Homo sapiens: one gene and its partners. The protein of the gene in region 1 purifies or fractionates together with the protein of each later gene. This does not show direct contact. Each region holds a gene or a part of one and is shown in the gene's direction. Other genes may lie near its edges.

Region 1 (3,500 bases):
CCAGAAACCATGATTACGTAAACTAAAAATCCTACACAGAAAACTAATGACCATAAGCAAAGTCAACGAACTAGGAAATAAAATATTTTATTTATATGTTATTAAACATAATATTTTATCTTTACATTTTAATAAAGCTCTGTCCATATTGAAAGAAAATCAGTAATAAAAAGACTGCCAACCAAGTAGAAAAGTGTTGAAGGCCATGAACAGGGAGTTCTCAAAATAAGACATATAAATAGGTTTATGAACATGAAATAGTTTTCAACCTCAGTCATAAAAAACAAGTCAGATTTAAAATAACCATTTTTTACACTTTAAATTGAGAAAAATCAAAAGATTTGACAAGAATTAATAAGAATATAGAGTAGCATATACCTTCTTACACCACTGGTAAAAGTTTAAAATGCTATGTCTTTAGAAGGCAGTTTGACAGTCTAACAAACGTAAATGCACATACCTTTTGACTCAGCAATCGCACTTCTGTGTGTGACTTGTAAAACATACAGGGAGTACTAAAACTATTCAAAGGAATAAAGTAGAGCTTTGTGTGGTGGTATGTGTCAATATCCAAGACATGTTATTAAGTGAAAAAGGCAAGGTGCAGAACAGTAAATGCATACAGTCTGCCGCCACGAGTAAAGAAAACAAAAGATTATATTTACATTTATACTTGTGCACAGAAATTTTCTAGGAGGATACACTAATGTTAGCTGCCATGGGGAGGTAAACTGAGGAGTTCAGGCTGGAAGAATTTACCAAATAGATGCTTACTTTCCAACAAAAAGAAAATAAGACACCTGAAGCAAAAAAGCAAACCAACGGATAATTTAAAAGTTATAAAGTTTGCTATTGTTAGAGAAGTTTTTGCTGGATATAGTACTTGTTTACATTGTTTTAGGGAACTTTATTATATGTTCAAAAACAAACGAAGTAGTCAGATGACCTCTTAAGACTTCCAACTCAGCTTCGGTGATTGTCAATTTAGGCAACAATATCCACTTACATTAAAAGTAAATGTCTGCTGGGCGCGGTGGCTCACGCTTGTAATCCCAGCGCTTTGGGAGGCTGAGGCTGGCAGATCACCTGAGGTCAGGAGTTCAAGACCAACAGGGCCAACATGGTTGAAACCCCATCTCCACTAAAAATACAAGCAAATTAGCTAGGCGTGTTGGCGGGTGCCTATAATCCCAGCTATAGGGGAGGCTGAGGTGGGAGGATTGCTTGAACCCAGGAAGCAGAGGCTACAGTGAGCCAAGATCATGCCACTGCACTCCAGTCTGGGCAACAGACCGAGACTCCCTCTCAAAAAAAAAAAAAAATTGATAGATAAATATTTGTTTTAGGCTCATGTACACATTACCCACAGTTGTTCTTTTTCCCAATTATAGGGGTTCCAATTTCATCTGCTGTTGCAGGCGTAGCAATAGGATTGGTCACCAAAACCGATCCTGAGAAGGGTGAAATAGAAGATTATCGTTTGCTGACAGATATTTTGGCAAGTATATTCTCGGTTTCAAATATTTAATAATGAAGACTAAAAATAAATAAATAAAAATTAAAAGATAAAAACAAATAATGGTGAAGACTATATGTACTTTGCACCTAGCGTATGCTTAGAAGAATGCTAGTATTTGAAGAACAGGTACTTGTTCTTCCCTTCCTCCTCTGCATGTTCACCTTGTATCTTATAGGATATGAATTTAAAATAGATATTATATTAATAGTAATAGGCCAGGCACAGTGACTCATGCCTGTAATCCCAGCACTTTGGGAAGTCAGGAGTTCCAGACCAGTCTGGCTAATGTGGCAAAACTCCATCTCTACTAAAAATACAAAAATTAGCCTGGGCATGGTGGCACACACCTGTAATCCCATCTACTTGGCAGGCTGAGGCAGAATTGCTTGAACCCGGGAGGCAGAGGTTGCAGTGAGCCAAGATCGTGCCACTGCACTCCATCCTGGGCAACAGAGCAAGACTGTGTCTCAAAATAAGTAAAATAAAATAAAATAAAATGATTACTTTAAAAAAATAGTAATACTTACCCTTAAGTATTGCAGTAATACTTACACAGTGTAAGTATTCATAATGACTCACTTTAGGATGAGCATAAATTCATTCTCAGGCATTTATGAGGGAAAGGAATGATCTAAAAATAAAATGATGTTTCTGGTGAAAATAATTGTAGCTTAAAAAGTCACAAATTGGAAGTGGTAGTTAATGTAGAAAACATTGCTTTGTGTTTGGACTTAGGATATGGTTTACTTCTAAAGCTGTTTTTTGAAATGTTTCTACAGTGAATATGTTGACTTTTGTTTTTGTTTAAAACTATGTCATAACTTTTTAAATTCCTGAAGGGAATTGAAGATTACAATGGTGACATGGACTTCAAAATAGCTGGCACTAATAAAGGAATAACTGCATTACAGGTATTTTTAAAACCCATTTTGTTTCATTTTTGTAACATTTAAATAATGCCATGAGTCAATATTTATATAATTGTTTGACTTTTCCATATTAGGCTGATATTAAATTACCTGGAATACCAATAAAAATTGTGATGGAGGCTATTCAACAAGCTTCAGGTGAGCTAGTGTGCTTGATTCTCCCTTCATTCTTTTCCACTTTGCTAATGGGAACTATAGTTCTCATTAGGCTTATTATAAAATATTGCTTTAAAAAGTGGAATTTCATATAACTTAGATCAAGAAGTACTGGCCAGGTGTGGTGGCTCATGTCTGTAATCCCAGCACTTTGAGAGGCCGAGGCAGGCAGATCACTTCAGGTCAGGAGTTCGAGACCAGCCTGGCCAACATGGTGAAACCCTGTCTCTACTAAAAGTACAAAAATTAGCCGGGCATGGTGGTGCATACCTGTAATCCCAGCTACTCAGGAGGCTGAGACAAGAGAATCGCTTGAGCCCAGGAGGCAGAGGTTACAGTGAGCCGAGATCATGCCATTGCGCGCCAGCCTGGGTGACAGAGGGAAAATGTCTCAAAAAAAAAGAAGTACTAAGTAGCCAGGCATGGCATGGTGGCTCATCCTAGCACTTTGGGAGGCCAAGGCAGGAAGATTGCTTGAGCCCCAGGAGTTCAAGACCAGCCTGGGCAACGTAGTGAGATCCCATATCTATTTTAAAAAAAGAAGAAGCACAACTAAGTTTTTGGGACACATGAATACACGCCAAAGTGGGTTACCAGTGAAATTTCAATTTTTACAAATTAAACAACTCTATTTAAGATGGGATTTTTGGAGAAGAGAATATGAGTGAATTTTCAAGGTAATAGGGATGTGGAAAGCTTCAATTATTAAGCTACAGGGTTTAGATTGTATACCGTGAAAACTAAGAGTACAGTATTTCAGATCATATTTGTTTTATGTAGTTATAATTTTTGTGTTTTTCTCTTCTAGTGGCAAAAAAGGAGATATTACAGATCATGAACAAAACTATTTCAAAACCTCGAGCATCTAGAAAAGAAAATGGACCTGTTGTAGGTAA
Region 2 (3,500 bases), on another chromosome or scaffold:
TCTACCAGAGGGCAGGCAACACAGCCAAGGGTAGAAGGGCACAAAGGATGGCGGAGGCAGTCCATCTATATTGCACAGATGCGGTCCATATGGATCAGCCTCCCAGAATGCAGAGCTGGCGGGGAGAGGGTGGAGAGAGGATCTGGAGGGACAGTGGAAGATATCCAGCACAGGCCATGAATAGCCTTGGCCCTGGGCCCAGGGGCACCTGACAAATATCATTTCCTGTGTGCCAGGACTTGAAAATGTTGGGAAGTGCTGTTTAGCCTTAGAACACTGATGCATTTACTGATAAGAGCTCATAAGAGAGATGGCCTTTCTCATGGGGCCATAGAACACTACCCCATACACATACACACACACACACACTCAACCACCTCTTGATTAATTAGCAAGGGACATCCTTGGATGTGGCTGTGGCTGTTCATGTGCTCTCGTGGGTATAGAGAATACCACTCAACTATATTTGAGCAGATGCCGTAGCCAGAAAAACGTCAGCCTTCTTCATTCTGTGACCACAATGAGTCACAGGGAGGTGTAGCTAGAAAACTCAAGACTCAATGCAAGTGGAGAAGATCCTCATTTTGTTCTATGAGGCCCCAGCAAGTAGAGACCAAGAAGGCCAGAACACCTTTGAGCACAGAGCAAGTTGGAAAGGTGGCAGGTGGAAAGCTTCCATGTATCAACACCTGTGACCTGGTGGGGCCTGGGTAAGGTGAAGCTGGTCTACCTTAGGTGGGAGCTTGGTGAGAACAGGGACTGGCAGGGTGGGCAGGTGCTCATGGGGAGGCCAGGGCAGAGCTGTGTGGAACTCGGCACTTTGGCCAAGGCTTTTAATGAAGGTGCCCTTGATGAAGATGAAAAAAAAAAACACATATCCTATAGAACAGAGGTCAGCAAACTCTTTCTGTAAAGGACAAGATAGTAAATATTTTAGGCTTCAGTGCCATGTGTTATATGCAGCAATGGCTCACCTCTGCCATGGTGGCACAAAGGAAGCCACATGCGATATGTAAACAAATAAGCATGGCTGTGTTCTAATAAAATTTTATTTACAAAAACAGGTGACAGGATATATTTGGTCTGTGAGCTACAGTTCACAGCACTACCCAGTATGGTAGCCAATAGCCACATATGGCTAATGAGCATTTGAAATGTGCTCTGAGGGTAAAATACGCACCAGATTTTGAAGAGTTTGTAAAATAAAAAAGTTAGCCATCTCATTAATAATTATATTGAGGATATATTGAAATAATATTTTGATATAGCTAGTTATATAAAATACATTATCAAAATTAATTTCACCTGTTTCTTTTTACTTTTTTAAAAAATATGGCCACTAGGAAATTTGAAGTCACATTTTTGGCTCACATCATATTTCTACTTCACAGTGATGCTCTCTCCAGAAAAAATACAGGGCAAGCCTCTGGCCCTTGAAGGGTCTCAGGTAGGAGATTTACCCTTAAAGAGGCGCAATAATGGAATTCAAATATACATAATAAAGTGTATGATAGGAATAGATTTTTCAATATATTACGTATCTTTTTTAAAAAAAATAAGCTATTACAGGAGGCCAAGACGGGCGGATCACAAGGTCAGGAGATCGAGACCATCTTGGCTAACACAGTGAAACCCTGTCTCTACTAAAAACACAAAAAATTAGCCGGGTGTGGTGGCGGGCACCTGTAGTCCCAGCTACTAGGGAGGCTGAGGCAGGAGAATGGCGTGAACCTGGGAGGCAGAGGTTGCAGTGAGCTGAGATCATGCCACTGTACTCCAGCCTGGGTGACAGAGCCAGACTCCGTCTCAAAAAAAAATAGGAAACAAAAAATAAAATAAGCTAGTTTTTTCTGCATCTGTGCTCCTCAAACTGGGAGTTATAGAGCTCTACTTCCACAAGATATTGGCCAGGCGAGGTGGCTCATGCCTGTAAATCCAACATTTGGGGAGGCTGAAGCAGGAGGATCACTTGAAGCCAGAAGTTCGAGACCAGCCTGGGCAACATAGCAAAATCTGACTCTACAAAAATAAAAATAAAAATAATTAGCCAGGCATGATGGCAAGTGCCTGTAGTTACTCAGGAGGCCAAGGTGGGAGAATCACTTGAGCCCAGGAGTTTCAGGCTGTCATGAATTATGATTGTGCCACTGCACTCCAGCCTGGGTGACAGAGCAAGAATCTGTCTCTCTCTCTCTCTCTCTCTCTCTCTCTGTATATATATATATAAAATACATAATATATATATAAAATATATAATATATATTATCTCTCTGTCTCTCTCTCTCTCTCTCTCTCTCTCTCTCTCTCTCTCTATATATATATATATATATATATATATATATATATATATGTAAAACCATTGCTCAAGAAAGGGATGTCTTTATAGTAAAAAGAAATAGGAGTAATGCAAACTTAAACATTAATTTAGTGTTTCACTGCAGCAGAATTTCTCAATTCTTCTAAACTTGCTCATGCGTACAGAGCTATTGTGAGAGAAAGCAAGAGTAGGCAATGCTTCCCCACCTTACTGGCCTTAGAAGCCATTTTTGCAGAACTCTAATTAGTATGTTTAGCAGGCAATTTGAGGGGCTGGGCACGGTGGCTCACGCTTGTAATCCCAGCACTTTGGGAGGCCGGGGCAGGTGGATCACCTGAGGTCAGGAGTTTGAGAACAGCCCAGCCAACATGGTGAAACCCTGTCTCTACTAAAAATACAAAAAGTTAGCTGGGCATGGTGGTGTGTGCCTGTAGTCCCAGCTATTTGGGAGGCTGAGGCAGGAGAATCACTGGAACCACAGAGGCAGAGGTTGCAGTGAGCCAAGATTGCGCCACTGCGCTCCCCTGGGAGACAGAGTGAGACTCCGTCTCAAAAAAAAAAAAAAGAAAAAAAAAGGCAATTTGAGAAATGCTGGTCTGCATAATGCTACACAATCAGTGTGCTGCATGATTTTCCAAAAGTCCAACTCAACTGGCTATCATTTTGCTCTATCAGTAAAGCCCCAAGAAGCACTGTATCAATAAGGCCACATTTAGTACAACATGGGATAGTGAGGAAACTGTTGACATTTGGAGGCGCAAAGACTTGAGTCAGATTTCTCTTCCTTTCTTTCTTAGATAGCCATTCTTGTAAAAGCACCTACTATGTGCCAGGCAGCGCTTTAGGCTTTGGGCATGCAGTGGTGAATGAAAAGAGGTCCCTTCTTCTTGGGGCTTTACGGCTAGAGCAAAAGAACAAATTATAAAGAAGACAAATAGTTAAAACATAGATAGGGATTAGTTGCAAGGAGAAAATACAGAGCAGAGAAGAGGGCTATGCAGCGGGGCGGGGCAGGGATGATCATGGAAGAGCATCTGGGAAGGCCTCTGGGAGAAGGTAACTTGTGAGTAAAGATCCAAAGGAGGCTCTGAGGCCATGATCAATCCTCGTCTGTGTATAGATAATCCCTTCCTTCTGAAGGGGATTCCTAAAGCCCAAAAGAGCTGATGTATGTGAGGGTCCA
Region 3 (4,049 bases), on another chromosome or scaffold:
TGCTTGAGGCCAGGAGTTCGCGACCAGCCCAGGAAACATGGTGAAGCCCTTCTCTACTAAAATACAAAAATTAGCTGGGCGTGGTGGTGTGTGCCTGTAGTCCCAGCTACTTGGGAGGCTGAGGCACGAGAATCGCTTGAACTCTGGAAGCCGAAGTTGCAGTAAGCCAAGATCGCACAGCTGCACTCCAGCTTGGGTGAAAGAGCAAGGCCCTACCTAAAAAATAAAAAAATAAAATAAACAGATAAACAACTATTTCTTAATATATGCCCCATTATTATTCCTTATCTGAAATTGAATTTAACTGAGATCCTGTAATTTTATTTGTTAAATGTAGTAACTAAATAGAGTCTTCCTATTTACTAACTAAAAATAAACACTGGGTGGCTCTTGCCTGTTTGTACTTGAGAGGGTTAGGCGGGAGGATCGCACGAGCCCTGGAGTTCGAGGGGGCAGTGAGCTATGATCAGGCCACTGCACTCCAGCTTGGGCGTCAAAGTGACAACCTGTCTCTAATAAAAAATAACAAACAGCCTTCCGCAGTTTGTCAGTACTATTTCTTTCTGCCAATTAATAGTTGTGTGACCCTGAGCAGGTAATATCTCGGGACTCTGCATCTGTAAAGCGATGGATAAAGAGACCTACCTCATAAGAACTATGAGGCTTAAATAAGATAGTGTGTGTAGCGTTTCTCGCATAGTCTGCGCTCACTAAACGGAGTTATTGTATATCGTTCGTTGTTAACTACCACAAAGGCTCTGCTCAGAGGTGCGTAGGCGCTGGCTCAGCCTGGGGTGAACCCACCAGGCCACCGAAACGAGCGATCAGGGTCGGCAAAGCTGTGGAGATGAAATGGGCAACACCTTCCACACTGCGAGTAAAGCTCGCAATCCGGGTGGAGGCCTCCACGTCCTAGCGCAGTCCAGTCCCGGGCGCAGGGAGGAGAGCTGGTCAGCCAAGATTCCAAGACAGGTGTCCACCTCCTCCAACGAAGCGGAACACGTGACACCACCCTATCCACTTCCGGCTTGGAGGGCATGCCCTCCCGTCACCAGCATGCACTTTCGACAAAACCGTGGAATCTAGTATTTTCCTCTGACACCTTTATATTTTCTTCACTTCCCTATAATTCTGACCTATCGTGTAGGTAAAAATTAATCTTCAGAGTATTACAGACATGCGTGCCCACGCGCTAGGCGAAAGTGCGAGTCGGAAGCACTTCATTCCCTCTCTTCGCTAGCCGGAAGTCGCGAGATCTGAATGAGTCAAAGCCGGCGGCCTCGGCTCCTCAGCTCCACCTGACAGTAGGCCGCTGATCGGCCGCGGGTCTTGTCGACCGCTAGGCCACCAGGTTCATGTGGAGGCTCCCAGGCGCCCGCGCCGCGCTTCGGGTGATCCGGACGGCGGTGGAGAAGCTGAGCCGGGCTGAAGCGGGGAGCCAGACAGCGGCGGGAGCGATGGAGCGCGCTGTAGTGCGCTGCGTACCTTCGGAACCCAAGCTGAGCCTGTCATTCGCTTTGGCTGATGGTAGCCACAAGAACATGCAGCGCGACCAGAGCGAGCCGCTGGGTCGAGTCCTCAGCCGCATCGCTACCAATGCCCTAAAGGGTCACGCTAAGGCGGCCGCCGCCAAGAAGAGCAGGAAGAGCCGGCCGAATGCTAGCGGCGGTGCGGCCTGTTCAGGGCCGGGGCCTGAGCCGGCTGTGTTCTGCGAGCCCGTGGTGAAGCTGTACTACCGGGAAGAGGCAGTGGCTGAGGACGTGCTCAACGTGGATGCCTGGCAAGACGGCGCGGTGCTGCAGATCGGCGATGTTAAGTACAAGGTGGAGCGCAACCCGCCCGCCTTCACCGAACTGCAGTTGCCGCGCTACATCATGGCCGGGTTCCCTGTGTGCCCCAAACTCAGCCTCGAATTTGGGGATCCCGCCAGCTCCCTTTTCCGCTGGTATAAGGAAGCCAAGCCCGGAGCGGCGGAGCCCGAGGTCGGTGTCCCCTCGTCATTGTCTCCCTCCTCACCTTCTTCTTCTTGGACTGAGACTGATGTGGAGGAGCGTGTCTACACCCCGTCCAATGCCGACATCGGGCTAAGGCTCAAGCTTCACTGCACCCCAGGCGATGGGCAGCGCTTTGGGCACAGCCGGGAGTTGGAAAGTGTGTGTGTGGTAGAGGCTGGGCCTGGCACCTGCACTTTTGACCACCGGCATCTCTACACGAAGAAGGTGACTGAGGACGCTCTCATCCGCACTGTCTCTTACAACATCCTGGCAGACACGTACGCGCAGACTGAGTTCTCGCGAACGGTTCTGTACCCATACTGTGCCCCCTACGCCCTGGAGCTCGACTACCGCCAGAACCTTATCCAGAAGGAACTCACCGGCTACAACGCCGATGTCATCTGTTTGCAGGAGGTTGACCGCGCAGTGTTTTCTGACAGCTTGGTACCCGCCCTAGAGGCCTTCGGGCTCGAGGGGGTGTTTCGAATCAAGCAGCACGAAGGCCTGGCCACTTTCTACCGAAAGTCTAAGTTCAGCCTTCTTAGCCAGCATGACATTTCATTCTACGAAGCCCTCGAGTCCGACCCACTTCACAAAGAACTGCTGGAGAAACTAGTTTTGTACCCATCAGCGCAGGAGAAGGTGCTCCAGAGATCTTCTGTTCTTCAGGTAAAGTAGTTCCGCCCGTCTCTTCACATACTGTCCCACTTTTAGGGGCCAGGAAGGCGAGGAATGAGGTGGGGGTTAAAAGTGCGATGAAAGTATCCAGATATTGTTGAAAGGTGTGTTTGCCCTTGTATCTTCAGCACAAAGTTTACTCTTCATTCATTCAGCAGATATTTTTTGAACACCTCTGGTGTGCCTGCCATACTGCAGGTTGCCTTGAACAAGACTAGCAGGGACTTTTACAGTGCTTACAATCTAGCGAGAGGGACACACGCTAAATGCAAGAACAATAGTAGCTAATGTTTTTTACTACTTGCCAAGCACTGTTCTGGCACATTTTAAAGTACTTAAAATTTAAGAGCGTGGTGTGTTTTGAAGTGCTCCATAAATATAAACTAGTTTTTTTTAAATCATAGGCTCATTGAATCTTCACAGTAAGTCCCCTATTCCCATTTTATAGATGTCATTCTTGTGTTAAAGTTTTTAAGTAATTGATTTTGTTCATAATAAGAAGAGCAGCTACCATTTTTTAAGTACCTAAGGTGTTTCATGCACCTTATAAGATCATTTAATTGACTCCACACAACAGCCCATGAGGTGGATGGTATTGTCAGTGACTGCCAGTACGAAACTGGCTAGAAAAGCATCTTTTTGCAGGTCACATTGCTATAAATGGTGAAATGAGTATTCAAACCCAGGTCTGCCTGACTCCAAAGCCTGTGCTTACGCTTGAAAACACTTTCTCCAGTCAAAGTGTTGTCATGTAAAATGTATTGTTTATATTACTAGCTTTATATATTGGACTATTATTATTATTATTATTATTTTGAGACGGAGTCTCTGTCACCTAGGCTGGAGTACGGTGGCGCGATATCGGCTCACCGCAACTTCCGCCTCCCGGGTTCAAGCGATTCTCCTGCCTCAGCCTCCCTAGTAGCTGGGACTAGAGGCGCGTGCCACCACGCCCGGCTAATTTTTTTAGTAGAGACGGGGTTTGGGGTTTCACCATGTTAGCCAGGATGGTCTCGATCTCCTGACCTCGTGATCCGCCCGCCTCAGCCTCCCAAAGTGCTGGGATTACAGGCGTGAGCCACCACGCCCGGCCTATATTGGACTATTATTAAAACATGTTACACTGAACCTAGTCATGTAGATCCTGAAACTTTAAGTTGGATTTCATGACTGCAGTCCTAGTTCATCAAGGGAAGGAGATGGAAGAAAACGTTAGTTCGCCATTAGTCTTAGATAAAAAACAGGCCGGGCCTGGTGGCTTATGCCTGTAATCCCAGCACTTTGGGAGGCCGAGGCGGGTGGATCACAAGTCAGGAAATCGAGACCATCCTGGCTAACACGATGAAACCCCGTCTCTACTACAAATACAAAAAAATT
Region 4 (4,091 bases), on another chromosome or scaffold:
TTCCCTAGAGATACTAAAGGCTGTCTGTCTCTCTTCTGAGCAGCCCACTCTGCCTCTCAGAGTGTACTTTTGGTTTACAATAAACTTTTTTGCCTACTCTTACTTTGTACTTGCTTTCAAATTCTTTTGTGTGGTGAAGTCAAGCACCTGAACCGGCCCACTGACAACAGCAAGGATAGAAGCAGTGAGATCGGTTACAAGGCTATTACAATAGTTCCCTCCAGAAACGGCAGTACTGAGAGGTGGGGAGAAGTAAGTTCTGGATTTTCTTTTTTTTTTTTTTTTTTTGAGACTCGCTCTGTCACCCAGGGTGGAGTGCAGTGGCGTGATCTCGGCTCACTGCAAGCTCCGCCTCCTGGGTTCACACCATTCTCCTGCCTCAGCCTCCCGAGTAGCTGGGACTACAGGCGCCCGCCACCGCGCCCGGCTAATTTTTTTTTGTATTTTTAGTAGAGACGGGGTTTCACTGTGTTAGCCAGGATGGTCTCCATCTCATGACCTCGTGATCTGCCCGCCTCGGCCTTCCAAAGTGCTGGGACTACAGGTGTGAGCCACCGCGTCCGGCCCTGGATGTCTTTTTGAAAGTAGAGCTTACAGGATATGCTGACTGATTAGACCGGAGATGTCACAGCATGGTGTCAAAGCGACTAATATTTTTGGCTAGAATCACTAAAGTTTACATTTATGAGATGGATAAGACTGTGGAAGGTTTGGGGAAGAAGATCCGAAGCTCAGTTTTGGACCTGTTAGGTTCAACATGCCTCTTAACACATCCAAGCAGAATGGTCAAGGATGCAGTCTTCCACATGGACAGGACATGAAATGTCTGACATCGAACAATAACAAATAACATTTTGACATGAGGAAAAGTATTTGTAATTGTAATTGATAGTTCATTCACTATAATTTGTCCACGTTCTTTTTCAGGCCATGTCATATATATACCTATTAATATTTGTAATAGACAATTTTGCTCTTTTCTACTTAAATTGTTATATACATTTCTCCACATTGCTTTATAGGCCTAACAACCATGTTTAAATTCTGTATCTTCATACAGAGGTAATATTTAAAAAAGAAGACGAAGACAAAAGGACTCCCTTCCCTCACCCATATACCTATGCCGTCTTACTGGGAGCAAACACTTCTTTAGCTCCGCAAAGCGATTGCACTTTCTCTTCCAAGTCGGCAGACGGCGCGCGAGCAGCGTAGGCACTGCTCCGCCTCCAATCCAGTTGCTCTTCTTTCTTTTCCTCACTCTCTTTTTCCTCGCGTCCTTTGCCCCGGAAGTGCTCTTACAACATTGGCTGCCGGCGTGACTTTGACCGCTTCCCGGTGCGTTACCGGCAGCTGAACCCACCCGGCGCCACGGGACTTTGACGCGTGCTCTGCGCTTGCCATGAGACTCCTGGGAGCTGCAGCCGTCGCGGCTCTGGGGCGCGGAAGGGCCCCCGCCTCCCTAGGCTGGCAGAGGAAGCAGGTACCGGAGCATAGAGAGGCTAAATCGGGACCATTCCCGGAACCTTGTGATCCCTTCTGGGCAATGGAAGGCCGTGACACCCCCTGGGTCCTCATGACTGACAGCTCCGAATACTGGCAGTCGCTCGTCAGTGCTGAAAAGCACCTCGGTGCCTGCACATTAGCTCGTTAGCTCGTTTGTTTCGCTCTCTGGTATCCCTAGGGTTTAATCAACTAAAAGTGTCTGTCACTCAGATACTTTGATATTTTATCCACCTTTTCTAAGGTTTTTTTTTTTTTTTTTTGCCTCTCTTTTCCCGTGAATAATTGTGCATTTTGGATGTGCAGTCCTATAGGGAAAGGTTTATATTGTATCTTCATTCCATCTAATAGGGATCCCCATCCCCTGCCACCAGAGTAAAGTTAAAACAAGCTTCATGAATTGTTTTTGTTTGGAGGGAATTGGAAATCTTTGGGGGCTGTCTTGGAGCTACTAGCATCACTGCATAGAGCATATAAGTTCTCAAACATATTTGTCATCTGTGAACTACAATAAAGGAGAAAGGGAAAAAAATTAAGTTAAATTTAAGCTAAAATTTGTATTTTCTATTAAAGTATTTTTTGGAGCTGTCTTTGTGATTTTATCTGCCCCAGTGTGTATTTTCAAATCTGCAGTAAAAAGTGTCTCCCATTTTAATTAAATTTAACTTATTCATTAATTAATTTTAAAAGAATACGTCTTTACTGTCTTGTTTTGAAGTCTGTCCTCTGATTACAAGAGTTCCAGGCTTAAAGGTTTCCCCTGGTGCCTTTCTCAAGCTATCTCATATCCAGTGAGATTTCTTGGAGGAATAATGTCCACCATACTCCTTTTAATTGTCTGTTGTTCTCTCTTATAAAAGGTGCATAGAATTGAGCTCTCGTATTTTTTTCAGGTTAATTGGAAGGCCTGCCGATGGTCTTCATCAGGGGTGATTCCTAATGAAAAAATACGAAATATTGGAATCTCAGCTCACATTGATTCTGGGAAAACTACATTAACAGAACGAGTCCTTTACTACACTGGCAGAATTGCAAAGATGCATGAGGTATATATTCACGGTTGATTCCGGATTAATTAGAACCAGATTTTAATTGTTTTGTTGCTATTATTTAATAAAGCTTATAAACCTGAAAGATTAAAACAATGGTAACAGCGGACTTTTGACAGTTAGGCTTATCTGAAAGTTGCTTAAGTTAAGTATCTGTGTTCTGGTTTTATTTTTATTTTTTATAGAAGAGGTCTCACTTTGTTGCTCAGGCTGGTCTCAAACTCTTGGGCTCAAATTATCATCCTGCCTCAGTCTCCCACAGTGCTGGGATTATAGGCATGAGCCACTGCACCTGGCAACTGTTTCCATTTCAGTTAAGATTTCTTTCCTTCTTGGAATGCAGGGACAGAGAAAGTCTGAATTGCTGTGCTTGTGTTTAGGTGAAAGGTAAAGATGGAGTTGGTGCTGTCATGGATTCCATGGAACTAGAGAGACAAAGAGGAATCACTATTCAGTCAGCAGCCACTTACACCATGTGGAAAGATGTCAATATTAACATTATAGATACTCCTGGTGAGTTGGATTCTTGGTTTTATTGCAGCTTCTTTGGCAAAAGCACATTTGGTTCTTTCTCTTACTGTGACCCAATTAGTTTTTGATTGTCAAATACTCAAAAGTGTAACACTGAATTCCTATTAAAGAAGACTAACTTAGGACCTAGAGCACTTCATCCTTATGTAGTTTTCTTGAAAATTTGTGCAAGTAAATTGTGAGTAGGCAGATTCTTGCCTTTTACATATTCTAGCTGATTCTAAAGGTGCCTGTGCCCTAGTATTTTCTTGAAGTGATCTTGCCAGGCCCTGCACCTAAGGGTTGGTGAATAGTATTGGTGAGCTCAGGAATCTACATTCTTATTAGAAGACTTATGTGATGAGCAGAGATACAAAAACTTCTAATAGTGCATATATTAAAAATTCAGATTGCTCTTTAAGACCCTCTCATACTTCATCTTATTCAGGGCATGTGGACTTCACAATAGAAGTGGAAAGGGCCCTGAGAGTGTTGGATGGTGCAGTCCTTGTTCTCTGTGCTGTTGGAGGGGTACAGTGCCAGACCATGACTGTCAATCGTCAGATGAAGCGCTACAACGTTCCGTTTCTAACTTTTATTAACAAATTGGACCGAATGGGCTCCAACCCAGCCAGGGCCCTGCAGCAAATGAGGTAATGAGCCTTAGAATAAACAAAGAGGATGTGATGATCTAGACAGCAAACCTTATATCCAAAAGGGTGATTAATTCACTGTCATTAAACTTTATTCTTAAATTTAGTTTTTTAAATATATTTATGTGAGTTAGTAAGTGGAACACTGATTTTAGTAAATTGGCTTGTGGTATGATCTCATCAACTACCTTATCTCTAAAATGGGGACAATATTACTTAAATTCTAGGGAGGTTGAAGATGAATTCAGAAAACAGTCTGACCGTTTATACTGTTTTGCTATTATGAGAGAAGTTATAATCTAGATTCTAAAAATACCTTGTGTTTTATTTAGACAAAAGATCATCTTTGGTTTTAATTTTTCCTTGAAGCATTTTAATT

What was found. Proteins that work in one complex are often made in the same cells at the same time.
Region 2: the proteins of PNPT1 (region 1) and LRFN2 purify together in Homo sapiens (affinity purification with mass spectrometry; one large-scale study listed by BioGRID and IntAct). This does not show direct contact.
Region 3: the proteins of PNPT1 (region 1) and PDE12 purify together in Homo sapiens (affinity purification with mass spectrometry; one large-scale study listed by BioGRID and IntAct). This does not show direct contact.
Region 4: the proteins of PNPT1 (region 1) and GFM1 fractionate together in Homo sapiens (co-fractionation; one large-scale study listed by BioGRID). This does not show direct contact.

What each region holds. Positions count from the first base shown.
Region 1 is NC_000002.12:55,645,345-55,648,844, reverse strand, and holds part of PNPT1 (polyribonucleotide nucleotidyltransferase 1, mitochondrial precursor), read left to right. Parts: intron 1-1,391; coding exon 1,392-1,498; exon of another isoform or gene 1,499-1,572; intron 1,573-2,358; coding exon 2,359-2,430; intron 2,431-2,522; coding exon 2,523-2,586; intron 2,587-3,412; coding exon 3,413-3,496; intron 3,497-3,500. UniProt on the Homo sapiens protein: RNA-binding protein implicated in numerous RNA metabolic processes. Catalyzes the phosphorolysis of single-stranded polyribonucleotides processively in the 3'-to-5' direction. Mitochondrial intermembrane factor with RNA-processing exoribonulease activity.
Region 2 is NC_000006.12:40,433,865-40,437,364, reverse strand, and holds part of LRFN2 (leucine-rich repeat and fibronectin type-III domain-containing protein 2 precursor), read left to right. Parts: intron 1-3,500. UniProt on the Homo sapiens protein: Promotes neurite outgrowth in hippocampal neurons. Enhances the cell surface expression of 2 NMDA receptor subunits GRIN1 and GRIN2A. May play a role in redistributing DLG4 to the cell periphery.
Region 3 is NC_000003.12:57,555,025-57,559,073, forward strand, and holds the start of PDE12 (2',5'-phosphodiesterase 12 isoform 1 precursor), read left to right. Parts: upstream 1-1,249; 5' UTR 1,250-1,355; coding exon 1,356-2,663; intron 2,664-4,049. UniProt on the Homo sapiens protein: Enzyme that cleaves 2',5'-phosphodiester bond linking adenosines of the 5'-triphosphorylated oligoadenylates, triphosphorylated oligoadenylates referred as 2-5A modulates the 2-5A system. Degrades triphosphorylated 2-5A to produce AMP and ATP.
Region 4 is NC_000003.12:158,643,236-158,647,326, forward strand, and holds the start of GFM1 (elongation factor G, mitochondrial), read left to right. Parts: upstream 1-1,291; 5' UTR 1,292-1,399; coding exon 1,400-1,480; exon of another isoform or gene 1,481-1,646; intron 1,647-2,393; coding exon 2,394-2,546; intron 2,547-2,929; coding exon 2,930-3,062; intron 3,063-3,507; coding exon 3,508-3,712; intron 3,713-4,091. UniProt on the Homo sapiens protein: Mitochondrial GTPase that catalyzes the GTP-dependent ribosomal translocation step during translation elongation.